7 linked regions of the Homo sapiens genome follow. The protein of the gene in region 4 purifies or fractionates together with the protein of the main gene of each other region. This does not show direct contact. Each region holds a gene or a part of one and is shown on either strand. Other genes may lie near its edges.

Region 1 (4,056 bases), on a different chromosome or scaffold from region 4:
CCCTGAGTCACCCTCAGCCAAGATCTGTCAGCACCCCTTCTCCTATATCCCACAGAGCAGCACGTCCTTCAACCTCCTTTTGTTTTTTGGTTTAAGACGGAGTCTCACTCTGCCCCACCTAGGCTGGAGTGCAGTGGCACAATCTCAGCTCACTGCAACCTCTGCCTCCTGGGTTCAAGCAATTCTGCCTCGGCTTCCCCATAGCTGAGATTACAAGCACCTACCACCACACCCGGCTAAATTTTGTATTTTTAGTACAGACAGGGTTTAACCATGTTGGCCAGGCTGGTCTCGAACTCCTAACCTCAGGTGATCTGCCTGTCTCGGCCTCCCAAAGTGCTGGGAGTATAGGCATGAGCCACCATGCCTGGCCCCTTCAACCTCTTAACATCACCAACAGCACCATCTGGAAGGACAGATCAGGAATACAAGACTTTTGGTCAGGCTGGCATTTGGAAAAGGTCACCAAAGAAAGCCTTGCTCTTCAAAATACTTCATTAGAAGCATGATCTTTGGCATGAGACCAGGGTTCCAAACCTTAGCGTGATTATTTGCTAGCCACACTGCCTTGGGCAAGTTATTTAACCTCTCTGTGTCAGTACCTTCATCTGCAAAATGGAAATGATAATGGTCCTCAGGAAAGAATCTAATAATGCCTGTCAAGAAGTACACACTTGAAAAATATTAGTTCTTCTCCTCACTCTACAACACTTTAAACCCAAACCTCTGTCATCGTCAAGAGATGGAAAGATGAGGAAATCATGAGCAAGAACACACGTCTTTCTAGCCAGTCAGATGCCTGGTTCTATCAGTCCCTGTGTCCTTGGCTGTCAGTCCCCAGAGCTGCTGGAGACAGAGCCCAGAGTGAGCAGGTTTCCCACCACCATCCACCACCCACAACATTTTGCTTCAGCCTCCTCCATTCACCAGTCCCCTTCCCTGTTCTTATCTCCCCCAACACACCACCCCCACCAGCACTGGCCCGGACCTGTTCCCAAAGGACTAGTTTCTGGCCATGTTCCAAGCCCCCTGGAAACACATCCTAGCATCTGGCTCATACTCACAGAGAAAGGGGCAAATGCTATCCAGGAGAATGCATGACCCTCCCAGGAACACTCTGACCCCCCCCAAGGGGATAGCTTCAGAGCTATGTAATTGTCCAACCAACTGCAACCATCCCACCCTGGGCTCCACTCCAGGCACTGCCCATCCCGCAGAACTTGCCGGCCTCCCAACATTTCTGGCACCCCATGCCAGACTGGTATGGCAGGAAACAGGGTAGAGCACTGTTCCAAGCCACAAAATTTCTCTATATGGTCCCCCAACCCACTTTGTCCAGCAACCCATCACTATGAGCCCTGGGAGCACAGACCACCTCCCTCCTCCCCAGAGTCAGGCTCCTAAGCCTTGTGCCTCTACCTTCTCCTCCCCTGAGTGTTGGTCCATTTGCACTCTCACAGATCTGCTGTTCTTCATACCACCGGCTCCCACAGCCACAGCCATGTCCCATTCAGCCTGGCAGGCCCAGGCTCAGTGCCTCCCAGACCTCAAGTCCCTCCCAAACCCTGATCAGGCTGAGACCAGAGTTTGGAACCAGCCAAGGCCAAGGCCCAGCCCTAAGGATGGCTCTGCCCACTGCCTTGCCAAGCCTTCCTGGCCACCTCCTGTCTATCCCATCCCCAGGGCCCATCTGCCCCTGCCCTCCTTGGCAAAAGGAGGCTCCAGGGGATTAAAAACGACTTCAGAAAGTTCATGGTAAGAGGCACTGCCCAGGCGGGGCCCAGCAGTGCCAGCACCACCCACCATACTCGGACATGGGCCTCAATTCTTCAATTCTGGGCCTTTCCAGATGTAGAGGAGCCTACCCAGGGCCTGTATCTGTCGGTCCAGTGCCCGCTGCCGCCTTCTCCCATCCCCAGTCCTCACTCTCCCTAAAGATTACAGAGGGCTCCCACATCACCCTTTACTATGCAACCCCCACCAGGTCCCTCCAGCTCACAGGGGTAATCTGGTAAGGAGAGGATATGGGCAAAGAGGCTCCCACGCCTGATTCCACCTCTAGCCTTTCAGTCGAGCCCCAGAGTCTGCTTTGAATAAAGTCAGCTCCCCTGCCCACCCTGCGGCAGGCCTTGGGGGATGTGGGGAGCCGACCCCACCCCTTTCATTCCCAAGGTTTTGGGTGAGGGGAAGGAGAGGGACTCCCGCAGACAGAGGGCATCCCTCCCTCTGCCCAGGCCGGTTCCTCTCCCCTAAATGGAATCTCCCCCAAACTCGGAGACACCCCACAGCCCCGCAGCAAAAAACTCAGGCCAGCCCCTCCCCCAGTACGTGCCAGATCCTCCTGGCCTCCGGGCCAGCCTGGAACTCGCCCCGTGGAGGGAGGCAGGCGGCGGGCGACGGGGGTGGCGAGCGCCGGACCTAGGAGTCCTCGATCCCACTGCCTCCATGACTTCCCTTTGCCAACCCCAACTCCCTCGGGCAACACTGCCGAGACGACCCGTCCAAGGCTTCGGCGCCCCCACCCACAAACTCTTGTCGAGAGCCGCTCGGGTGCGTTCCAATCCTGGCGCACCGGGAGCCCGAGCGGCCACTTCCCCTAGCCCTCAGCGCGCTCACCTGCCGGCCCGGCTCCGCGCCTGCCCTGGGCCCCCGCCCCGCCGCCCCCGCGGGCTCCGGCCGGCCGGCCGGCCGTCCCGCGGTCCTCCGAGCCCGCGCGTCCTGGCCGTCCCGCCCGCCGTCCGCCGTCCGCCGTCCGCCCGGCCCTCGCCCCCTCCCGAGCTGTCCAGCGCAGCCGCCCTCTACCCCGGATCCAGAAGTCCCCTCCCCGCTGGCTCCCGGACTCCCCGCCTTAAAGGCACAAGCTCCTTTTGTCTGGGCATCCCCCTCCCCCTCCCCAGAAGTGGGGGCCGAGTTGCCCACTCCCCTTCCTAGCAGCGGGGTAGGGGCGGAGGAGGCCAAATAATGGGACCCCTCCCTCCGCGCGCCCCCTCCTCTCCTCCGGCCGCTTCCTCCCCCAGTCCTGGGAAGACAAGCAGCTACTGTTCTGGGATCAAGACCCCGCGGGGAGGGGACCTCGCAGCCCGGTCCCCTTCCCTTCACCCCGGCCGCCTCCTCCGGCATTCCTCTCCCGCCCTCACCCCGGGGGTCCCCGAGCGCGCCCGCAAACCCACCCCTCACGGCTACATCCCCCGCCCCGCCCACCGAGGGTCGCCTTCCTTCCTGTCAGGGTCCCAGGGGTTGGGCCGGCGCCCCGCGCCCACTCTTCATCCCCAATTCCTCCCTGCCCCTGCCCCAGCCCCAGCCCCCACCTAGCCATTCCCGCCCTGCCTGTCACGGCCCTGCGCCCTCCCGCGGGAACTCAGTTTAATAATTAATTAAGCTCTCATTCCACAAGGCGCCAGGTGTGTGCGGCCTGCTTGCCCGCACACCACTTCTTTCCTCTTCCCCCCAGTCTCTGGGGCAGCGGCCCCGAGGCGAACCTCGGGGCCCAGTGGAGGGACCCAGGGAAGGGGCACTCTCCCTGCCGCCCCCACAACCCCCCGCCCTACTCTCTGGGAGCCCCTCCCCCGCACCTGCCAACTTGCAGCCTCACCCCCAGGCATCTTTTACCCAAAGGGCTGTGCTTCTCTGCTGGGGGTTGGAGGGGCTACTGGGGTGCATTGCTAAGTGCACGAACTGAGAAACTGGGTCTTTAGTTATTTCCAGCACGGAGCAGCTGCCCAAGTTACCTGGGAGATGGGAAAATCGTGTGAAAGCTGGTTAACCCTTTGAGGATTAGAGTAATGGTGGAAGCAGAAAGGAGAAGGAGTTTCACTCCAGGATGTACGTAGGTGAGTGTGACTTTAGAGGGGGTGCCATTCTGGAGCTGGGAAGAAGGCAGCCTGCCTGGCTTCCTTTTGAGGCCCCCTCTCCATTCCCTCAGTCAGACCTCTAGCTCCTCCTTCCAATTCAGCCCTTCCCCAAGCAGCCTATTCCCCACCCAAGATCCCAAGACCTAGGTATCTGAAGATGCTTCCTCCTCAGGACCAGCCCTCCCTGCAGTCCTGTCCTTCAAGA
Region 2 (3,500 bases), on a different chromosome or scaffold from region 4:
AACATCTGAAGAGGTATTTAGCCTACACCTGCCACAGCCTTACCACTCTCCAGTGAAAACTTTCAGAGTAGCAGCAGCAGCACTAACAAGCTTACTCCTCACCTTCTCAAACTCTATGCCTTCTCAATATCACACTATAACAGGCACCCACACTGATACTGATCCTCTACCTTATACCCTCAAAATACTTTTCCTCTGATTGCTATAGTGACCACAGAGGCAAAGTAATTTTTACTTTACATTATCTGCTCTTTATCCTTTAGAATCATTCCTATTCAAGTGACTTATCCCAATTTTGTGTGCAAATTTTTCATTTTCTCACCACTTTGTATTATTATTTTCTCTATTTTCATTTCCGTAACATAGCAAATTAAGAAAAGAGTTCTGGAATAAGATTGCCTAGGTTCCAATCCCAGCTCACTAACACTCTTTACTAGTAAAGGGTGCTCATTGATCTCAGTCAGATTATTTCTCTGAGCTTTAGTGTCCTGGTCTGTAGAATGGAAATAGAATATTTCCTTCATAGGGTTGATGTGAAGATTAAGGGATCAAATGTGCATGAAACACCTAAAGTGAAATCTCAATAAGTTGGCCACTTTTATATAATAATAAATCCTTAATGCTTTAGTACTTACATAAGTAATGAATTACATTCACTTCAAATAAACACAACACAGAAAAACCACTTACAGTAATTATAGGCTAAAATAACAATGCATGACTTGCCTGCTAATATTATACATTAGTGAGTGGTTTCTTATTTATAAAAGTTGAAGGTCTTTAAGTAGAAGAGCTTCTGCATTTTAAAAAAAAAAAAAAAAAAAGAGCTGCCGAATTGTAACACTAACATTTTGAAAAGGAAGCAGCAAAAACTTGGATTCTAGAAGAGATTATCTTCTAGTGGCTCTTAAGACTGTGACAGTACAGCTAGTGTCAATTCGATAGTGATTAACTTAATCCAGTGTTTAATGTAAAGCACAACTTCTTGGTAGATGTGAAATGTTTTCTTATATTTAGGGTCCAGCTTATCTGAAATACATTATGCCCGAAAATATGAACTACTCGCCAGAACTCTGAAGTTTAGATTTGGGTTATTTTAAAGCTCATGCGGTAAATGAATTAGAAAGGTTATATTAAAGAAATACAACCAATGCTACAGAGAAATAGCTTTGTTGGTTAATACATATTCACTTCAGTTCAACAAGCATTGACTGAATACCTTCCACATGCAAAGCTCCTTATGTAGGTACTTTGAGAATTCAAAGGTAAGTTATGACCTGATCCTTACTCTCAAGGAACTTACTATCTAGCAGAGGAAACAAATATTTAGTATACAGTTAAATATTTAATATGCAACTAAAGAGCCATTCTTTCAGCAAGGATGTATTGCTTGCCCATCAAACGCCAGGCATATAGAGGAAAGAGTGCATTATGAACTAAAACAGAGGCATGAAATATAACTAGAGAAAAGTGTCATTCTGAAGGAGGACTTCATATGGCCGCACCTGAAATGCCTGAATTATAATCGCTACCACCCAGGCACCAGAGTGTGTTTGCTTCACAGAGGTTGTGGCTTTCTTGAGCACTGAATAGGGACCTGAGATCTTCTGTGAATGTGTAACTTTTTCACATAATTCAAAGACCTCAAATTAAGAATTTCTTACAAATGGTTTTGTTTGCAAAGAAAGAATTACAAAACTTGTGTCAAGATAGGATGCATACTGACCTAGGAGTTTTTTTTTCAAAGAAGTCATCAATTATTTTTCTAACCTTATGTGACTATTTCATCACTCTTTTTACTATTATTTACAATGTTTTCTTCTACTCTGATGTTTTCCAGATCTGAAGGTAAATATGAAGTAACTTAGTAACTGAAATTCTTGAACTTCTGATGAAGCTCTAATTGGATCTTCAACTTTAGGAAAAAAAAGGCTATTTACTTTGTCAAACAGCTCTGGATTGAAAGTAACCTCTGTTCATATCTTTAATGGAACATATAACCTTTATAACTAACCACAATGTTCAGTAATGCTACTAAGTTTTGGCATGTAACAGAAAAATACAGATTACTGTTCATTATTTAATTTGTCTGTCTGCATTTATGATATTTATCATAAACTGTAAGATAAAGGAAATAAGTAACGATTTAATTATGATTGACTTAAAAGATTCCAGTGATTAAAACTATTTAAGAACAATAAAGACATAATACAGTTAAGTGTAGGCACTTACTCAGTATATAAATCTTCTATCATTGCAACAATAATAACGATGAGAGACACAGCAAATATCTGACATCCAGAACCAATCAGAGAGGAAAATATCAGTGGGTGACTTGATGGTCTAAATACATCTCCATGCACCTGTTTCCATCCATATTCATCTCCTAGGTCTCTATCCTATATACAAATATATATATAGAGAGAGAAAAGCAAATCATTCAGAATCAAACTAAAACATAGTATGTAAAAATTACAGTTGTAAGTTTCCTCCCTCCAAATTTATAGCTAAAGAAATACAAAATATTGAGAAAGTATATTCCAAACTTAGAATGATCACTGCCTTAATAACAATGTTAAAATGCTGAGGTTCAGGAAGTTGACTTCTGGTTGTGCTCAGAGAATCTCAAATAACGGAAAAAGAAAAGGTTTAGTAACAAAAAGAAATGGTCAAATTGGGAGAACAGTGCACTGACTCTCTTAATGCCACTTTCAGACACTATTCTTGCTATTCACATCATAGCTGTAGCTCATATACAATCAGGGGCTAGGTGGAGAAATGAAAGAGAAGAGTATCAAAACCAGTACTAGATCCCCTAAGAATGCAGAAATGTCCTTTAGCGCCTAGAATCTAAGAAAACATATGGGGGAAATATTCAATATGAATGTTTTTATTTAACAGTCTATATGCATTTTTTTAAAAAGAATTCAATTTTTACTTTGCAACCTTAGTAAGCAAGTGCTCCTTAAACAGTTTCTAACACAGCTTGTTTCTAAAACAATATTTCCTAAGGAATAGAAGTCCCTCAAGGTAATCTGTTTTGGTGGGGAGAATCCTAATCAGATACAGTTAAGAGGTACCAAATGCTTTATCCACCCTCTGATACTTCACAATATACCCTAGTATATTAAAATTTAAAATTTGAAACTATTTCCCAAGCCAGGCACGGTGGCTCACACCTATAATAACAGCACTTTGGGAGGCCAAGGCAGGAAGATCGTTTGAGGCCAGGAGCTCAAGACCAGCCTGGGCAGCATAGTGAAATTATCTCTACAATAAATAAAAAAATAGCCAGGGGTGGGGGCTTGTTCCTGTATTCCTAGCTACTCAGGAGGCTGAGGTGGCACGATCACTTGAGCTCTTGAGTTTGAAGTTACAGTGAGCTATGATCGCACCACTACACTCCAGCCTGTCTCTTAAAACAAATTTCCTAAATTTATTTAATGATACAGTATACCTATACCGAATATCCATTAGCTAGCACTCTATGTAACACACTT
Region 3 (3,500 bases), on a different chromosome or scaffold from region 4:
CGGCAAAGGGTTGCCTGGCTGTAGGGTAGAGCAGGTCAACAAGGGAATGGGTGGGGACTGATACTTCAGCCACCTGTGGACCAGGCACCGTGCTTGGCACTTTCTACATCATCTCTTTTAGTCTTCCAGAAATGCTAAGTAACCTGCCTAGGCTCTGCTAAGTGTGTTGTAAATGGAAAAAGCAAATTGGCAAACAGTACGTGTAAGATGGTCCCATTTTTCAGGAGGCTGAGGCAGGAGAATGGCGTGAACCAGGGAGGTGGAGCTTGCAGTGAGCCAAGATCGTGCCACTGAACTCCAGCCTGGGCGACAGAGCGAGACTCTGTCTCAAAAAAAAAAAAAAGATGGTCCTATTTTTTAAAAACAGTGGGCATATGTATGTAATTTCTAATAGACAAATAACTCCCACAAAGTATGTATTTTTATTGTCATGTTACATGTGAAGAAACAGGCTCAGAGATGACCTGCCTGGGTGTGTCCCCAGCTGCCCACCCTAAAGCTTGTGCTTTTCCAGGATCCCCCCTGCCTCTCCCCGAGAGCATCTGCCAGAATTCATTTATGGATGAGGAAGCTGAGGCCAGGAGAAGCTCAGCCATCCCAAGGCACACAGCACATTGAGTCATGACCATTTAGGGCTGCAGGAGACATCAGCTCAATAGAAGATTTGGGTGTGGGAGCCCCCAGGGCCAGGGAGGTATGAGCCTTATTCATGTGAGCATCCTCCAGACGATGGTGGCTGCCTGGGGAGTGCTGTACCCGGAGGACTGTGGAGCTTGGTCCAGGGACAGCAGGGAAAGTGCCATGACCAGTTGGTGCCATGAGCCCTGGGTTGCACTGAGGGGCTGACCCATTCCCAGAGTTCGTGCTTCCCTGGCCTTGGGGAAGGTGGGAAGGGAGGGAGGGAGGGAATTCCCCTGCATGGGGCACTGCATCAGGGCAGTTAAATGTTTAACTCTGTTAAACACTTGCACCAGGCTAGGCGGGGTCGCTGAGTTCTCTAGACTGTCGGGGACTCACTGTTTGGCCCTGGGCACACACCACTTAACCTCTTTGAGCTCCTGCTCTCTCTGCTAGAGGATACCCGCTGTGCCTAACCTCACCAGCTTTCAAGAGTCTCAAAGGCAGTAATAGACATGAAAGAGCTTTGAAAAGGCCAGGAGTGCTGAACAGAAGCCGGGTGTCGCTGTTACACCCCGATGGTGCTGGGCGCTTGTCTGCAGGCTGATCACAATGCCCTCTGTCATTTCAGCTGAATAGCATTGGCAATTACTACAAGCCGTGGTTCTTTAAGCATGTGGAGAACTATCTGAAGACAAACCGAGAGGGCCTGGAGTACATTCCCTTGAGACACTACTACCACCGCCACACGCGCAGCATCTTCTGGGAGCTCCAGGTGAGGCTTAGGTTTCTGTAGCCCTGGCTCCTCCAGGCCAGCTGGGCAGGGAGCCCGGACAGTTAACACTGTAGCCATACTCTCTCCCTTCAGGGTAAAGAGTGGCTTTGTCCTAAGGAACTGCAATGCCTTCTTAAGCAGCAACACAGTCGTTTCCTTCTGAAGGAACCAACTACCTTCAGTTCAAGCAGCAGGCTCTTAGCAAGCATCTGCTTGGTGCTGGGGAGTAAGCCCCTGGGCCGGTACTTTGGGGAACACAGACCTGTTCCGCCCTTGAGGAAGGGTTAGCCTCTAGCCACGGTGAGCAGACAGATCCCTGCACTGTAAAGGGCCGCAGGAACATTAGTAGGAAGTGGCTAGTTCTGCCTAGGGCTCGAGGTAACAGCCAAGCCTGGCTGTGAAAGGTGAGTGAGAATTTGCTGTTGCATGTGTAGATGGGTGGGTGGATGAGGAGCAGTGACACTTTAAGTGGGGGAAGGTCAGGAAGAACCCCTCAGGAGATGACTTTGTGAGCAGGGACCTGAACATAGGGAAGGCAGACCAGGAACAACTCTGGGGAGGACTCTGGAACTCTGTTCACAGGCAGAGGGACAGCCAGAGCCCAGGGCTTGAGCTGGGCTAACAGGAAATTAAACATTATAAAATGGACAGTTCAGGGTAGTTTAGTACATTCACAGTGTTGTGCAACCACTACCTCTGTGTAGTTCCAAACATTTTCATCTCTGAAAAGGAAACCCTATACCCATTAAGCAGCCACTCCCTATTCTCTCCCCTTTCCCCAGCCTGTGGCAACCACCAATTCATCTTCTGTCTCTGCAGATTTACTTATTCTGGATATTTCACATATATGGAATCATTCAGTATGTGCCTTTTGTGACTGGCTTCTTTTACATAGCATAATGTTTTCATGTATCAATATTTCATTTCTTTTTATGGCGGGATAGTAGTTCATTATATGAGAGACCACATTTTGTTTTGTCACTCATCTGTTGATGGACATGTGGGTTGTTTCAACCTTTTGGCTACTGTGAACAGTGCTGCTACAAACCTTCATGTGCATGTATTTGTTTGAATACTTGTTTTCAGTTCTTTGGGATATAGAACTAGGAGTGGAATTGCTGGGTCATATGCTAATTCTGTGTCTAACTTTCTGAGCAACAACCAAACTCTTTTCCACTGAGGCTGTGCCATTTTTCATTCCCACCAGCAATGTATGAGCGCTCTATTTTTTCAACATTCTCACCAACACTTGTTATTTTCTGGTTTTTAAATTATTAGTATTATTATTATAGCCATTCTGGTGGGTTTATGGTATTGACTTGCATTTTCCTTGAAATTAATGATGCTGAGCATCTTTTTATATGCATGTTAACCGTTTTGTATATCTTCTTTGGTGAAAAGTCTATTTGAATCCTTTGCCACCTTTTAAAATTTGGTCATTTGTCTTTGTTGTTGAGATGTAAGAGTTCTTTGTGTATTCTGGATACTAGACCCTCATCAGATATATGATCTGCAAACATTTTCTCCAATTCTGTAGGTTTCTTTTCATTGTCTTGGTAACGTCCTTTGATGCACAGAAGTTTTTAATTTAGATGAATTCCAATTTATCTATTTTCCCTTTTGTTTGTGCTTTTAGTGCCATATATAAGAATTTATTGTCAAGTCCAAGCCCCTTTGTTTTCTTCAAAGACCTTTATAGTTGCAGCTCTAATCTTTAGGTTGTTGAGTGGGGTAGGAGTCCAGGCTCCATTCTTTTGCTTATAGCTATCCAGGTGTCCCAGCAAGGCTGCATGTGTTTGAAAAACAGCAAGAAGCCTTCGGAGCCAGCATGCCCACGCTGAGCTATGGTGAGGAATGAGGTCAAACAGGCACCAGAGGCTAGATCATATGGCTCCTTGTAGGTTAGGAAGGACTTTATATTTTATTCTAAGTATAATAGGAAGCCAATGAGGGCTTTGAACAGGAAAGTGGCATGGCCTGATTTTTGTTTTAAAAGAATAACTGTGACAGCTGGATAGAGTGGATGGGGACGGGAGTGGACAAGAGTGGAAGAGTAGAAGAAAGAAGATACTGTTGTCTGGGCAGCAGCAGAGGAGAAGTGTCAAAT
Region 4 (3,500 bases):
CAAAAGCAGAGCAAGGGTGAGATATCAGCTCCCAATGTGCCATTGGCAGGGTCCCCTTATGTGGACACAACATATGCAGTGGCTCTGCCCCCACCTCAAGAACCTTGGGTGGCCCCTCCCAGGCCCGCCCCTGCTTCAGCTCCTGCTTGTGGGGATGAGGGACCCTGAGAAGGAGAGTCTCCAAGTGCCAAGAGACTGGGCTTGGTTCGAATCCCAGTGCTGACTAGCTGGGTGATGCTGGCTAGGTGAGCCCCAGATCCTGCAGCGGTAAAGTGGGACAATAATGCCTCCTTTCTGAGGTTTGTGGAGGATGATATAATGTGTCTTGTACCATGCAGGGTGCAGAATAGATGCCCAACAAATGGTAGAGAGAAGTATTATTAAGGAACAGGGTTTCTGGGGGCCTCTCCCACCTGCCTCTGCCTCTAGAAGTTTCTCCCTGGACCTGAGTCCCCCCAGGGCTTGGTCTAGCCTCATCCTAACAGGGCTAGTCAGGCCTTGTTCTTACCGCCACAATGATTGGTGTGAAGAAAGACCAGCAGAGTTTCCACCAGATGCAGGGCCTGGATCCAACCATCTCTTGGATATTGTCATAGAATCGGTTGACACCTGTGACATTGGGAGCAGGAGGGATGGATGAGCTGTGGGTGCTTCAGGGTCAAAGCCTGGTTCTACCACTTTCTCACAGTGTGACCATGGGCAAGTCACCTAACCTCTCTGAGTCTCAGTTTCCTTGTCTGTACCATGGGGGTTATGCTCTGGGGGTCCTCGTTACCAAGTATTTTTCAATAGCCCAATTCTCACAGCAAGTGGGTTGTGTAGGTGAGCAAGTCACTTTAATGTGAAGATATCTACCAACAAAAGGAGACTGACATGATGATCCCCTCCACCCCTGCCACTCTCAATGTCCCTCCCACTCGACATCTATCCCAGCCATTCCTTCAAAGGCTTTCCTGGGCAGGGGCTGTTTCTCCCTGATGGTCAGATGCTATAAGAAACTGGCAATCTGCCGGACACGGTGGCCCATGCCTGTAATCCCAGCACTTTGGGAGGCCGAGGTGGGAGGATCACCTGAGGTCAGGAGTTCGAGACCAGCCTGGCCAACACGGTGAAACTCCGTCTCTACTAAAAATATAAACATTAGCCAGGTGTGGTGGCGGGCGCCTGTAATCCCAGCTACTTGGGAGGCTGAGGCAGGAGAACTGCTTGAACCTGGGAGGTGGAGGTTGCAGTGAGCCGAGATCGTGCCATTGTACTCCAGCCTGGGGAACAAGAGCGAGACTTCGTCTCAAAAATAAATAAATAAATAAATAAATAAATAAATAAATGAATGAATGAAAGAAAAAGAAATTGACAATCAATTGCAAAGAACTGCAAATCTCATGAAAAAGAAAAACCCCAAACCCCAAACTGGTGTCTTGAAGTTCACCAGAGCGGCTTCGGGCACTGCTCAAATTATAAGCAGAGTCACTGACCAGTGAGGATCTGACCGTGTTGGAACAGTTAGAGAGAGAAGGTGTTATTGGGAGTGTAAATTAGTGCAACCTCTATGGAAACCAGTACAGAGATTTCTCAAAGAATCAGAAATAGAACCACCATTTGATCCAGCAATCCCACTACTGGCTATCTATCCAAAGGAAAAGAAATTATTATATCAAAAAGATATTTGCACTCGTGTTTATTCACAATAGCAAAGATAGGGAATCAACCTAAGTGTCCATCCGTGGATGGCTGGATAAAGGAAATATGGTATACATACACGATGGAATACTATTCAGCCATAAAATAGAATGAAGTCATGCCTATTGCAGCAACGTGGATGGAACTGGAGGCCATCATCTTAAGCAAAACAACTCAGAAACAGGAAGTCAAATACTGCATGTTCTCACTTAAAGGTAGGAGCTAAACACTGGGCACAGGTGGAATAATAGACACTGGAGACTCAGAAGGGTGGGGGAATGGGAGCTGGGGTGGATGATGAGAAATTACTTAGTGGGTAGAATGTACTGCTGGGCTTGGTGGCTTATGCCTGTAATCCCAGCACTTTGGGAGGCCGAGGTGGGCGGATCATGAGGTCAGGAGGTCGAGACCATCTTGGCCAACATGGTGAAACCCTGCCTCTACTAAAATACAAAAAATTAGCTGGGCGTGGTGGCACATGCCTGTAATCCCAGCTACTTGGGAGGCTGAGGTAGGGGAATTGCTTGAACCAGGCAGGCAGAGGTTGCAGTGAGCTGAGTTTGCACCGCTGCACTCCAGCCTGGTGACAGAGCAAGACTCCATCAAAAAAATGAATAAAATAAAATAAATAAAAATAAAAATAAAAAAAGAATGTACATTATGTGGTGATGGGTACACTAAAAGCCCAGACTTCACCACTACACAAGATATCCAGGTAACAAAATTGCACTCATGTCCCTTAAATTTATACATATAAAACAAACAAAAAAGAAGGGACAATGACAAGGAGGATGAGGTGGCAGATATTGCAAAGGGGGACACAAAATATCATGCTTCTTTAAAAACATTTGCTCTGATGGGACAATCAAAGGTGCAGGAAAGGATGTTGTCATTTTTTACTATCATGCAGTTGGCTCAAGAAACTTAGGCCACAAAATAAACAAAATCAATGTTTCTTTTGTTATTTGTTTTAAGATAGTGCACACTTTTAATTACAGCCTAGACTGTGTTAAATATATAACTTTAAAACTTTAAAAAGTAGTTTTGGTTTCCCTTTTCTGGATAAAATCTCCACTTATTTTAAATGAATTCATTTAACTGCTCTTATATCTTCTAAACATGGGGGACTCCTGGACTAACCTCATTGAATTGTAATGTGAAGAATAAATAAATAAATAAATGTAAGGAGAAGACCTGGGGTTCAAATTGCACTTGTTGAATGATGACTCAAGAAAGGAATGAATGGATGAATGAGTGAATGAATAAGGGATGAGGGGCTGATACTCACCGTAAAACCAGGAAATAGAGACACATTCAAAGAACACGAGGAACAGCAGGCTCATGCCACTGGCAGAGTAGTAGTCAAAGAGTTTGAAGACATAAATACCCCCCTGCAAGATGAAAAGAGGTGAGAACAGGTGCATTGTCCCCGGCGCCCACTGCATCCAGTTCACAGACCACATGGACTCTGGAGGCTGATGGGGCTGGGATTAGGCTTCAGGGTAGATTAGATGAAGCACTGAGGGCTTTGTGACCACGAGAGGATGTGGACATTGACAGTCCGGGCATTGGGAAGGAAATGTCCAGGTGGTAGAGGAAAATGCCAATTTCTGGTAAGGTTGGAGGGCAGAAAGCGGAGTTGGTCACCAGGGCCATCTTTTTACAGTGTAAATCAGTCAGGTCTCTCCCCTGCTTAAAACCTTTCAGGACTTAAATGAGACAATAATATAACACATAAATAAGCAGAGAGAGATCTAATCCAATCCCATGCCATCCAATCCCATCCCATCCCATCCCATCCCATCCCATCCCACCCAAAT
Region 5 (3,500 bases), on a different chromosome or scaffold from region 4:
TCTGAGAGCTAACATTTCCTCCTCTAATTGCTTTGGCTGTCAGCGACGTCTTTATTTAGAGTCCTGTTTTTAAGTTCACCACAAAATTGAAGGACACAATCAGAGTTCACAGAAAATATAAAGCAAGAGAGTAAAAGTAGGGAACAAGCTTGTAATGATTTAAGAGTAAACTGAATAAAGGCATAACTGTCTTTGAATACAATAACAAACATTTATGAGTAAGAGTGACCGCTGTGAGGAAGTAAAAAGAGTCCTAGACTAAAGATTGAAAACTCTCTTTTCATTTGAGTCATTAAATGCTACCAGCGTCCATACACAGCGGGTGGGCATCCATCTGACTTGTACTAGCAGGCATCCATTCTGATTGGTCAGTGTCCATGCTGTTCCCATTGTTAAGAATTTTAAATATCACTTCTCAGTACAACTAATTACATGCCTACATAATGAAAATGTCTTGCTCTTAATTCTATTCCTTCCTAGTTTGTCTTCTTTCCTATCCCCCATCATAGTCGTTTAAACTCACTACTCCCTGCCAGACACTTCCCTCATCCCCAGCAACTAAGACAAAAGGGCATACTTCCATGTTCTTTTTACATTTCCCAAATTTGTTGATTCTACTTTTTTTTCCTCAGATGATGTTTCAATGCCCTCTCTCCATCAATGATTTTGTCTCATCCCCAGTCATAAAAATGCTCAAGAGTTCAACCCCTAAACATTTTCCCTGGACTCTGCCTCCCCACTCAAGTGCTGTCCTTATTTGCCTTTCTTTTACTTTCCATCTTCTTGATAATCTATGCTCACTTACATCTCCATTTCTTCCCCTAATCATACTTCAGCCACCCTTAACTGTTTCCTACCATCACTACTTCACTAAGAATATTTTAAAATGTCAGAAATAGCCCATTCATTGCTAGATTCTATCATGTCTTCTCAGTCTCCTCCTTACCCAATCTCTCTATACCATCTGTCATTGCTGACCACCATCTTTGAAACAGTCTCCATCCTTGGCTTTCATCTCACTCCTAGCACCTGTCCTGTATCTTTCTGGCTACTTCCATTTTTGTTGGTTCTTTTCAAGTCAGCTGAAACCTAAGTACAGCAAGGGAGACAGGTGGTACAAAGGGTGCTTGCAAAGGAGGGTAGAGGGGTAGTGTTGAGGGGAGCCTGGAGAAGTTGGCTGGGACAGATGACACCACTTGGAGACCATATTTAGGCTCTCAGACTTTATCCAAGTGGGACTGTTGTTTAAAGGTTTGAAAAAACATGGCTTATAGTTGAGAATTAAATACATTCAGACATTTGGATGATGAAAACCTGAACTGAGCTAAATGTGAAAGTGTGCTCACCACTTTCCCTGCCAAGGGGTCGTAGAACCGCTCCAGGAGCTGGACCACTGTGCTCTTCCCACAGCCACTGCTGCCCACCAGAGCCAGCGTCTGGCCCTTCTTCACCTCCAGGCTCAGTCCCTGAAGCACTGGGATGTCCGGTCGGGTGGGATAGTTGAATACAACTTCACCAAATGTGACATTTCCTTCCAATGTGTTCTGCAATGAGAAGAATAACAGTAAATTTGAATGCTGCAATACTGAAAATAAAGTGTATAGCTAACTCTCTCGATTACCAGGTGTCAGAAGATAATTAATTTGTGTTACAATTGGCTTCACTTCAAACTGCTAGAATTTATTTTATTTTAATTTTATTATTTATTTATTTTTTATTTTTTTGAGACAGAGTCTCACTCTGTCACCCAGGCTGGAGTGCAGTGGCATGATCTCAGCTCACTGCAACCTCCACCCCCCAGGTTCAAGCAATTCTCGTACCTCAGCCTCCCAAGTAGCTGGGATTACAGGCGTGTGCCACCACACCCAGCTAATCTTTTTTTTTTTATTTTTATTTGAGATGGAGTTTCACCATATTGGCCAAGCTGGTCTCGAACTCCTGACCTCACGTGATCCACCCACCTTGGCCTCCCAAAGTGCTGGGATTACAGGCATGAGCCACTGTGCTTGACCTCAGACTGCTAGAATTTAATAAATGAGATCTAAAAGAGTAAAAGCTTTCATAGCATGTATTGTTAAGACAATATGAATATGCAATACAGCTACAATAACTCAAATCTGTTCCTCAGGAATACAGTAACTTACATACAATAAAATCTGATAACCAGCCTGGGCAACATAACGAGACCCTGTCTCTACAAATAATTAAAAAATTAGCTGGGCATGATGGCACACGCTTGTAGTCCCAGTTACTTGGGAGGCTGAGGCAGGAGGATCGCTTGAGCCCAGAAGATCAAGGCTGCAGTGAGCTATGATCATACTGCTGCACTCCAGCCTGGATGACAGAGTAAGACTCTGTCTCTAAAAAAAAATTGTTTTTAAAAAATCTGATTAATAGGTTTTGCTTATAAAGTGAGCAGTATTCCTATTTCCCTATAACCTTTGCTACGTAAAAGTACTGAATGTTGATGTATATTATTAGCAGTAATTGAAAGGAATCTATGATCTAGGAAGTTTTATTTTATCATCAGCATATTTGAAAGTACAAATTTTATTAAGTTTCCACTTAAAATACTTTCATTCAGGAGTCAGGAGTAGATCAAACAGTTGAAACATCAAACTCACCGGCATTAGGCCTTCCGTGCTGTAGCTGTCAATCAAAGGGGTTTTTTCAATGATCATGATGATGTGGGCTGCTGATATTTTGGCTTTGGCATAGTCAGGAGCAAATGAACTGACTTGCCCCACGGCCATGGCACCAAAGACAACAGCTGAAAATACTCTGGAAAGCACAAACACAAAACATGTGCACAGCATTACCATCACAATGCTAGAAAGCTGACACTCCTTTTTTTTTTTTTTTTTTTTTTTGAGGTGGGGTCTTCCTGTGTTGCCCAGGCTGGAGTGCAGTAGTGCAATCAGAGCTCACTAAAGATATGATCTCCAGGGCTTAAGCGATCTTCCCACCTCAGCCTCTGTAGTAGCTGGGACTACAACTGTGCATGACCACACCAGCTAATTGTTTTATTTTTTGTAGAGATGGGGGTCTCCCTATATTGCCCAGGCTGGTCTCGAACTACCGGGCTGAAGTGAACCTCCTGCTTCAGCCTCCAAAAGTGCCGGGATTATAGGTGTGAGCCACCATGCCTGGCCAAAAGTTGACACTTCTATAACCAGAGAGCTTTGCCTCTAATAGTTATAAAACAGATGTTAAAAATAAAACAAACACATTTCCTTATAAGTTCATGTCTATGTGATAGATTGATTGCAAAATGGCCCATTTTTTTCCCTCTGTATACCTCTCTCTGTATCCTCATCTTCTTGCACTGTGACCTTTGCAGCACCCTTTGAATCTGGGCTGGCCTTGTGACTTGCTTTGGCCAACAGGATATGGTGGAAATCACTTTTGCCAGTTCCAAGCCTATGACTCAGGGGGCCTTATATGCTTTGTGAGCATGCATGCATGTGTTCTCTCTCTCTTTCTCTCTCTCTCTCTCAGAA
Region 6 (3,500 bases), on a different chromosome or scaffold from region 4:
CTGTAGTCCAAGCTGCTGGGGAGGCTGAGGCAGGAGAATGGTGTGAACCCAGGAGGCAGAGCGTGCAGTGAGCTGAGATCGTGCCACTGCACTTCAGCCTGGGTGACAGAGCAAGACTCCGTCTCAAAAAAAAAAAAAAAAAAAAAAGAGAATAGAAAAATCCCTTTGTTTTTTTCCCTACACCCTCAGAGCACTGAAGCCAGTCCTTGGATCTTCCGGAAAAAACAATATTTAAGGTGAGACCTGAAGGATTAGAAGTTGGCAGGACACAGAGAAGATTCCAAAAAGAAGAAGATGGGTAAAGAAAGAAAGAAAAAAAAGAGCCTGGAAAGGTACGTGGGGTAGGAGATCAGGTGGTTTATGGCATGCGATGGAAATTTTTTTAATTTTTAAATCCTTTTTAGAGACAGGGTCTTGCTCTGTCACCCAGGCTGGAGTGCAGGAGTATGATCACAGCTCACTGTAGCTTCAGACTTCTGGACTCAAGCAGAAGTCTCCCAGTTGCTAGGAATACAGGTACACACCACCACGCCTGGCTTTCTTTTCTTTTACATTTTTTTGTAGAGACAGGGTCTCACTATGTTGCCCAGGCTGATCTCAAACTCCTGAGCTCAAGCGATCCTCCTGACTTGGCCTCCCAAAGTGCTGAGATTATAGGCATGAGCCACCATACTCAGGTGCAATGGAATTTTTAAAGCTTTATCCTGATGGTATCAAGGAGTCATTGAATGTTTTCATGCAATGTATAGTTGCAGTTTAGAAACAACTGGTGTGGAAAATGTGAGGGTACACTCAAACGCATCCAGGGGGCCTGAGCAGGGGGTTGCAGACCATAGTGGTTGCAGGGACTGTGCTCCTCCCTCAGGAGCAGCTGCCACCTGTGCTTGCTGATGACTGCCAGGTAAGAATGCAGACTCTGTGCAGCTAAACCTTCTGATTTTCCAAGAAAAGTCTGAAATCTGGACCTTTTATATAAAACCTAATTTTAAAACTATTTTAAAATCTTAAACACACACACTCACACCAGATGGACCCAACAAAACTGCTTTACAGGCCCATGGGAATCGTTTACAACCTCTGGCTCAAAAAGTGTGTAACTCAAGCAGGGGGCCTGCTGCGGCAACCCAGGCCTGGGCTCCAGAAGCACTGCCAGAATTGCAGAGAATGGAAGAATGTGAAGAACTGAGTGACAAGGATGACAATGATCTCTGACGTGAGGGACAGAAGCAGGGGAGTCCAGGACAACACGCCAGGTGTGAGCCACCATGCCAGCCCAAAAATTAAAACATAAAAGAATTCATGCATTTGTTCAGCTCAGGGATTCTGGAGTTCCTACTAAGTGCCAGGCGCTGGCTGTTAGGGGTACAACGGCAAACAAGAGGTGTGGGCCTGGTCCTCAAAGAGCTTACATCTAACACAGTGTCAACCTCTAAGAGAATGGCAAAGACAGTAGGTACATTACAGAATGAAAAGAAAAGAGGGCTTGGGAAAGACCCTGAAGAAAACCAACAACTAAGTCATTTATATAAGTCTGAATGTGGTTGACTGCACAGAATTTAGTACTTGTTAACAACTATCCCATGGCTTTGTCTTTCCAGAGCATTCCCTCTATTGTAACCCCTACTTCATTACACTGCACTACTATCTTTTTTTTTTTTTTTGAGACAGAGTTTTGCCCTTGTAGCCTAGGCTGGAGTGCAGTGGCTTGATCTCGGCTCACTGCAACCTCCACCTCCCGGGTTCAAGTAATTCTCCTACCTCAACCTCCCGAGTAGCTGGGATTACAGGCGTCCGCCACCATGCCCAGCTAATTTTTGTGTTTTTAGTAGAAACAGTTTCACCATCTTGGCCAGGCTGGTCTCAAACTCCTGATCTCAAGTGATCTACCCACCTCAGCCTCTCAAAGTGCTGGGATTACAGGCGTGAGCCACCGCGCCCGGACTACTATCACCTTTTTGGTCAGTGCATTCCACTTGACTGTATGCCCCTGAAGCTGGAGAGGTCGCCTTCCATCTGATTCCCCATGAGCAAGTACAGTGCCTAGCACACCAATGAAACACTGTGTATCTTGGACAAAATAATACATTCTATAAGCGAAGCAACTGTTTAATCCATGATTCGTGTCTCACTAAATTTAGCTGTGTGTGACCTGATTCACCTAGAAAAGGTTTTCTAGTCTAATATCCCAGTACTTTTTAAGCAAGGCTACCCCTTACTCTAGAGGAGTATTCCATTTTCAAAACACATTGGAGCAGTGGTTCTTAGGTGAAAATCCAGGTTAACACCTCAACAGCAGATACGGTGTTTTATTTCTCTATCTGCAAGGCCCGGCACTGAAGACTTCTTGCCATTCTAAATTCCTGAAGTTATATCTTTAACCTATTTACTCATTCCTGGTGGAGGAAGAGGAAAAGTTGATAGCTCCATAAAAATACATTGTCAAATAAAGTTACTTAGTTTTCCCTTAACCTCTTCTCATCAAGGTTTGATGAAAGGCAGTTTTTCTCTTGTCCATCGGCCTGTCTGATTGCTAGCCTAGGCAGAGCTTACCTGCTGGAGCCCCTCAGTAATAGAAGTTACTGGAGCCATCCCACAGGTCAGGGCCGAGAGCATGTACCCATCTGAGCCAAGGGAACTGTTGAAATTTCCTTGCTAAAAGAGAAGAAAAAGAAGAGAAAGAGGGAATCCTAGTAATGTGGACAGAAATCAGTCGGACACATCAGAAACAGTGGAGTGTGCTCGTTCACTTTAAGTGAGATAAAATGGTCACAAAGCATTGATCAGCACTCAGAAATGGACGCACGGCCTTGGCAGATGGCAGTTCTCAACAAGTGAGTCCACGGACCCCTGCGGGCCCCCAAGGACAAATGATTGTCCTAATAACACTAAGACATTCATTGTCTTTTCCACAGTGTGTTGTATGGAAAATACAGTTTTGCCTCTGCAAAACTGCAGAGACATGGGCAAGAACCACGGGGTTCTTGCCAAACTGTACTAGGAGTCATTGTCACCTCTACTACCACACGCACTCGCAGTAATAAATAATACACAAAGAAAATACAAGTTCTAAAATTCTTTTAAAAATCAAAGTGTCAGTTTTGCTTTAAAATCCTCTTGATAAAGCAGGAAAATTCATCATTTTGTTCAATGGCAACCCTCGAGGACATGTCTTCTTAATACTCTGTGTGACAAATGAGAATGCGCCCAACGCGCTTCCGCAGCACTGCATTCCAGGGCGGGACAACTGCCTGGAACAAAAGTCCTTGTGCAGCTCCTGAAGTCAAGGGCTAAACTGCCACTTCTTTCATGGAGCATCATTTGTATTGTTTATTTATTTATTTTCGACAGAATCTCACTCTGTGGCCCAGGCTGGAATGCAGTGGTGTGATCTCTGCTCACTGCAACCTCTGCCTCCCAGGTTCAAGTGATTCTCCTGCCTCAGACTCCCAAGTAGCTGGGATTACAGGCATGCACCACCACACCCGGGTAATTTTTGTATT
Region 7 (3,500 bases), about 42 Mb from region 4:
GCCACTGCGCCCAGCTAAGTATTGGGATTACAGGCATGAGCCACTGTACCCAGCCCTACAATCTCTTTTGATCCTTTTAATCAACCCTATGTGATAGGTAAACTCATTTGACCGAGGAAATTGAGGCTTATAACAATTAGAAGATAACAGATAGAAGAGCTAAATGGTGAATTGTATTTTTAGTAGAGACGGCATTTCACCATGTTAGTCAGGCAGGTCTCGAACTCCTGACCTCAGTTGATCCACCCGCCTCGGCCTCCCAAAGTGCTGGGATTACAGGCATGAGCCACCATGCCCAGCCATATCTGCATGTTTCTAAGGAGCAGCTACAGAGCTGTCATCAGACTCAAAAGACCACCTTTGACTCCATAACGGTTAAGATGGTGATTTCTTGGCTTTGGAGACCTTGCTGCTCTGTGATACTTTAGGTACAGTGTTACACAATGTCCCTTTTTGGTCATAGCTGTCCCCAGAGATTTTCAGACCACAGTAGTCCATTGATATGCTTAGATCAAATCTTCCAAATTGCAACTCTTCACAGATAACTCTGAGGGTGCTTGACACAGAAGTGATTTTCATTTGCTGCTGGGATGCAGAAGGGAGTCATTCAGTGAATGAGGTTTGCACTCTTCCCAGCATCCCCATTTAGCAACCCTGTTTAATTACAGTCTTCTTGTTCTCTGTGTCTCATGGGAGAAGTTCTTTGCTTAGATGGTTTTCTTGAATTGACAGATTGGAAAGTCTCAGGAAATGTCCCTTTCAAGCGGCAATAATTGGACACTCTCTCCCTTCCCCCCATGTTACATTACGTTATCTTATTTTTGCAGCATCATTTAAAAGGTATTTCAACTTCTCCCTGGAAAGAGACAAGTATTCAATAAAGAAATACATTTTCTATGTTCTAATTGAGAAAACTGAAGTTCAGAACGATATAAATGTCATTATTGAAATTCCTAGATATTATGAGGCAGAGGAGAAAAGAGAAATTAGTCCCCATGATTTCTGGTGAGTCTGCTATACCCTTAAGGCTCCCACTTGCTAAGCGTATGCTATTTCTAAACAGGCTGGGGTGGGGGAGTGTGGCCAGGGCCCGGCAAGGTGAACCACTAACTAGAATTCTCTTTCTGCTTCCTCAAGGGCTTGACTTTGTAGAAACTCAGTGAGTCTATTGGGGCCTCTTGGTTGTTATTAATAAATTAGGGAGCCTTCCAAGTGCCTTCCTGGGTTCTTTGACTACTGCACGGGAGTGCTGAGAGATCCCATGGAATGAAATTTCAGGAGAAATGCAGACAGGTTGGGCGTCTTAGAGGAGAGTCTCCATGAAAAAGCTGCTGTATGTCATTACATCACATTAGGAAGAACAGCCACATTGTTCTCATTTCAGCTAAGTAAACACTTCTAACGTCATTTATTCTTACGTATTTTTCCTCTTTTTCTATAGGTGTTGTTTCGGTTGATCACCTTTGTCTTGAATGCATTTATTCTTCGCTTCCTGTCAAAGGAAATCGTTGGCGTAGTAAATGTAAGGTAGGAGGAGATGCACCCTGGCACTGTCAGAGTTCACCTTCCTAGCCAGGCTTTCTTCAAACTCTGTACCTGTTTGTCATCCTTGGATTCTAGAAGCATGGACCTTTATCAGAAGCAGAATGTCTTAGCAGTAGGCTGAGGAGAAGCGTGCAGGAGTGGAGGGACGCGCAGGCGATGTTGCTTTTAATGGACTCATGGAGTGTTTTCCATTAGCAGCCTCCAAATGCACATTTCTTTGCCAGCTGTTCTGGTTTTCCTGCTCTTGGAAGTCAGGAAGGAGAAGAGTGGGAGTAATTCATTAAAAACTCTCTCTCAGATATAATCCTATGTTCTTGTCCTGCTGACAGCAAAGGAAACAGAAATTCAGTAGTTTGTGAGGATGCGCTTCATAATGGCAGGGCTGGAGCAGCCACCTTCCTTCCCTCCTCAGTGATTTTATAATTGGGATATGGCAACTGGGATTCGAGCTTGAGTCTTTGTCATCAGTTTCTTGGAGGCTCTTGGAAAGATGACTTCTTTGTCTTTTAGACTCAGCTTGTTTCTTCTACTCGCCTCCTTTCTGTTCAAGGACACCCACGCATATTTTGTCTTCACAAATGACACAAAGTATATGAAATGATGTGAGTGCTCAGAATAGCTCAGCTTCTCAGGTGTGTCTTCATGTCCTGATAAATAAGACAATATGTTCCAGACAGCATTTCATGTCTAATACTTACCAAACATATACTCTTGGCTCTGGTCTCAGAGCTTAGTGGCAGGACTCAAGCTTTGAGCAAAGGAATCATCTGTGGAGTTTTGCACTACATAGTGCTGAACAGGGGCCCAGGAATCTGAATTTTTATAAGCTCCTTAGGTGATTTTGAAACAGGGACCATTCTTTGAGAAATATGTTTTCTTTTCCTCTTCTTCACCTTCTTCTTCTTTTTCTTTTTTTGAGACGACAGGCTTTTGCCCTATCACCCAGGCTGGTGTTCAGTGGCGCCATCATGGCTCACTGCAGCCTTGACCTCTTGGGCTCAAGCGATGCTCCCGTATGAGCCTCCTGAGCAGCTGGGCCTACAGGTGTGCACCGCCACACCTGAATAATTTTTTTATTTTTTGTAGAGATGAGGTCTTACTGTGTTGCCCAGGCTGGTCTCGAACTCCTGGGCTCAAGTGATCCTCCCATCTTAGTCTCCCAAAGTGCTGGGATTGTAGGCATGAGCCTGAGAAATATAGGCACTTGGCCCTAAGAAATACTGTTTTAAAAGCAGGAAGGAAGAGGGGCAAATCCTCCTAGGGGCTCAGATTTTTCTCCCCAGGCAGCCTTCCTGAGATTGGCAGGTCCTGCTTTGACAGCCCTTGTCTGGCCTGCCCTGCTCCCCTGCTTAAGGTTTGGTTCCATCTCCTTATTTGCAGTGTTCCACAGAGGCACTGGGTAGCAGGATAATCCTTGGACAACCCCAGAGACCTTAACCCTGGGCTGTCCCTACTCTGGCTTCACCCAGACGGCTGTCTATTGAGGAGGGGAGATCTCAGCTACTCCTCGCTAAGATGCAGGAAGGCTCACCCAGGTGCTGCCCACCTGGGAGGTACCCAGGCACGCCTTGCTGATCTGGGTTGCAGCAGCCTCTGTAATGGTTGCCAGCCTTGTTGCCTGTCTTGAGATTCTTTTGGCCAGAGCCTCCACTCGGTAGAGGCTCAGCTTTTCTCACAGGGGCCATCGGTCACTCGTGTCAGTGTGACCAAGAAGGGTGGGGTTATAATCTTATCTTCTTCTCCTCCTTATGGTCATGGCCACACCTCTGCCTGTAGCCATGAAGGCTGAAGCCTTTTGAGGCCACTGCAGCAGTTTCTATCCTTCACGTAACTGTAGGCACACACCCTCAGGTGTCTTTCATTTGGTTCCTAACTCATTAGTTCTCATGGATCAGACCGGTAGGGGGTCCTGTAAGAGCCCACTGCCTTCCACATCACCACCAGTGGTTTATGAC

What was found.
Region 1: the proteins of SLC6A1 (region 4) and ADCY6 purify together in Homo sapiens (affinity purification with mass spectrometry; one large-scale study listed by BioGRID and IntAct). This does not show direct contact.
Region 2: the proteins of SLC6A1 (region 4) and TM9SF3 purify together in Homo sapiens (affinity purification with mass spectrometry, with the first as the bait; one large-scale study listed by BioGRID). This does not show direct contact.
Region 3: the proteins of SLC6A1 (region 4) and DHCR24 purify together in Homo sapiens (affinity purification with mass spectrometry, with the first as the bait; one large-scale study listed by BioGRID). This does not show direct contact.
Region 5: the proteins of SLC6A1 (region 4) and ABCB1 purify together in Homo sapiens (affinity purification with mass spectrometry; one large-scale study listed by BioGRID and IntAct). This does not show direct contact.
Region 6: the proteins of SLC6A1 (region 4) and KDSR purify together in Homo sapiens (affinity purification with mass spectrometry; one large-scale study listed by BioGRID and IntAct). This does not show direct contact.
Region 7: the proteins of SLC6A1 (region 4) and RFT1 purify together in Homo sapiens (affinity purification with mass spectrometry, with the first as the bait; one large-scale study listed by BioGRID). This does not show direct contact.

What each region holds. Positions count from the first base shown.
Region 1 is NC_000012.12:48,786,290-48,790,345, forward strand, and holds the start of ADCY6 (adenylate cyclase type 6), read right to left. Parts: upstream 2,801-4,056; 5' UTR 2,617-2,800; intron 2,568-2,616; exon of another isoform or gene 1-2,567. UniProt on the Homo sapiens protein: Catalyzes the formation of the signaling molecule cAMP downstream of G protein-coupled receptors. Functions in signaling cascades downstream of beta-adrenergic receptors in the heart and in vascular smooth muscle cells.
Region 2 is NC_000010.11:96,549,013-96,552,512, forward strand, and holds part of TM9SF3 (transmembrane 9 superfamily member 3 precursor), read right to left. Parts: intron 2,400-3,500; coding exon 2,233-2,399; intron 1-2,232.
Region 3 is NC_000001.11:54,863,196-54,866,695, reverse strand, and holds part of DHCR24 (delta(24)-sterol reductase precursor), read left to right. Parts: intron 1-1,249; coding exon 1,250-1,393; intron 1,394-3,500. UniProt on the Homo sapiens protein: Catalyzes the reduction of the delta-24 double bond of sterol intermediates during cholesterol biosynthesis.
Region 4 is NC_000003.12:11,030,748-11,034,247, reverse strand, and holds part of SLC6A1 (sodium- and chloride-dependent GABA transporter 1), read right to left. Parts: intron 3,072-3,500; coding exon 2,969-3,071; intron 610-2,968; coding exon 509-609; intron 1-508. UniProt on the Homo sapiens protein: Mediates transport of gamma-aminobutyric acid (GABA) together with sodium and chloride and is responsible for the reuptake of GABA from the synapse. The translocation of GABA, however, may also occur in the reverse direction leading to the release of GABA.
Region 5 is NC_000007.14:87,513,885-87,517,384, forward strand, and holds part of ABCB1 (ATP-dependent translocase ABCB1), read right to left. Parts: intron 2,782-3,500; coding exon 2,625-2,781; intron 1,545-2,624; coding exon 1,347-1,544; intron 1-1,346. UniProt on the Homo sapiens protein: Translocates drugs and phospholipids across the membrane. Catalyzes the flop of phospholipids from the cytoplasmic to the exoplasmic leaflet of the apical membrane.
Region 6 is NC_000018.10:63,332,707-63,336,206, forward strand, and holds part of KDSR (3-ketodihydrosphingosine reductase), read right to left. Parts: intron 2,653-3,500; coding exon 2,551-2,652; intron 1-2,550.
Region 7 is NC_000003.12:53,123,936-53,127,435, reverse strand, and holds part of RFT1 (man(5)GlcNAc(2)-PP-dolichol translocation protein RFT1), read left to right. Parts: intron 1-1,441; coding exon 1,442-1,527; intron 1,528-3,500.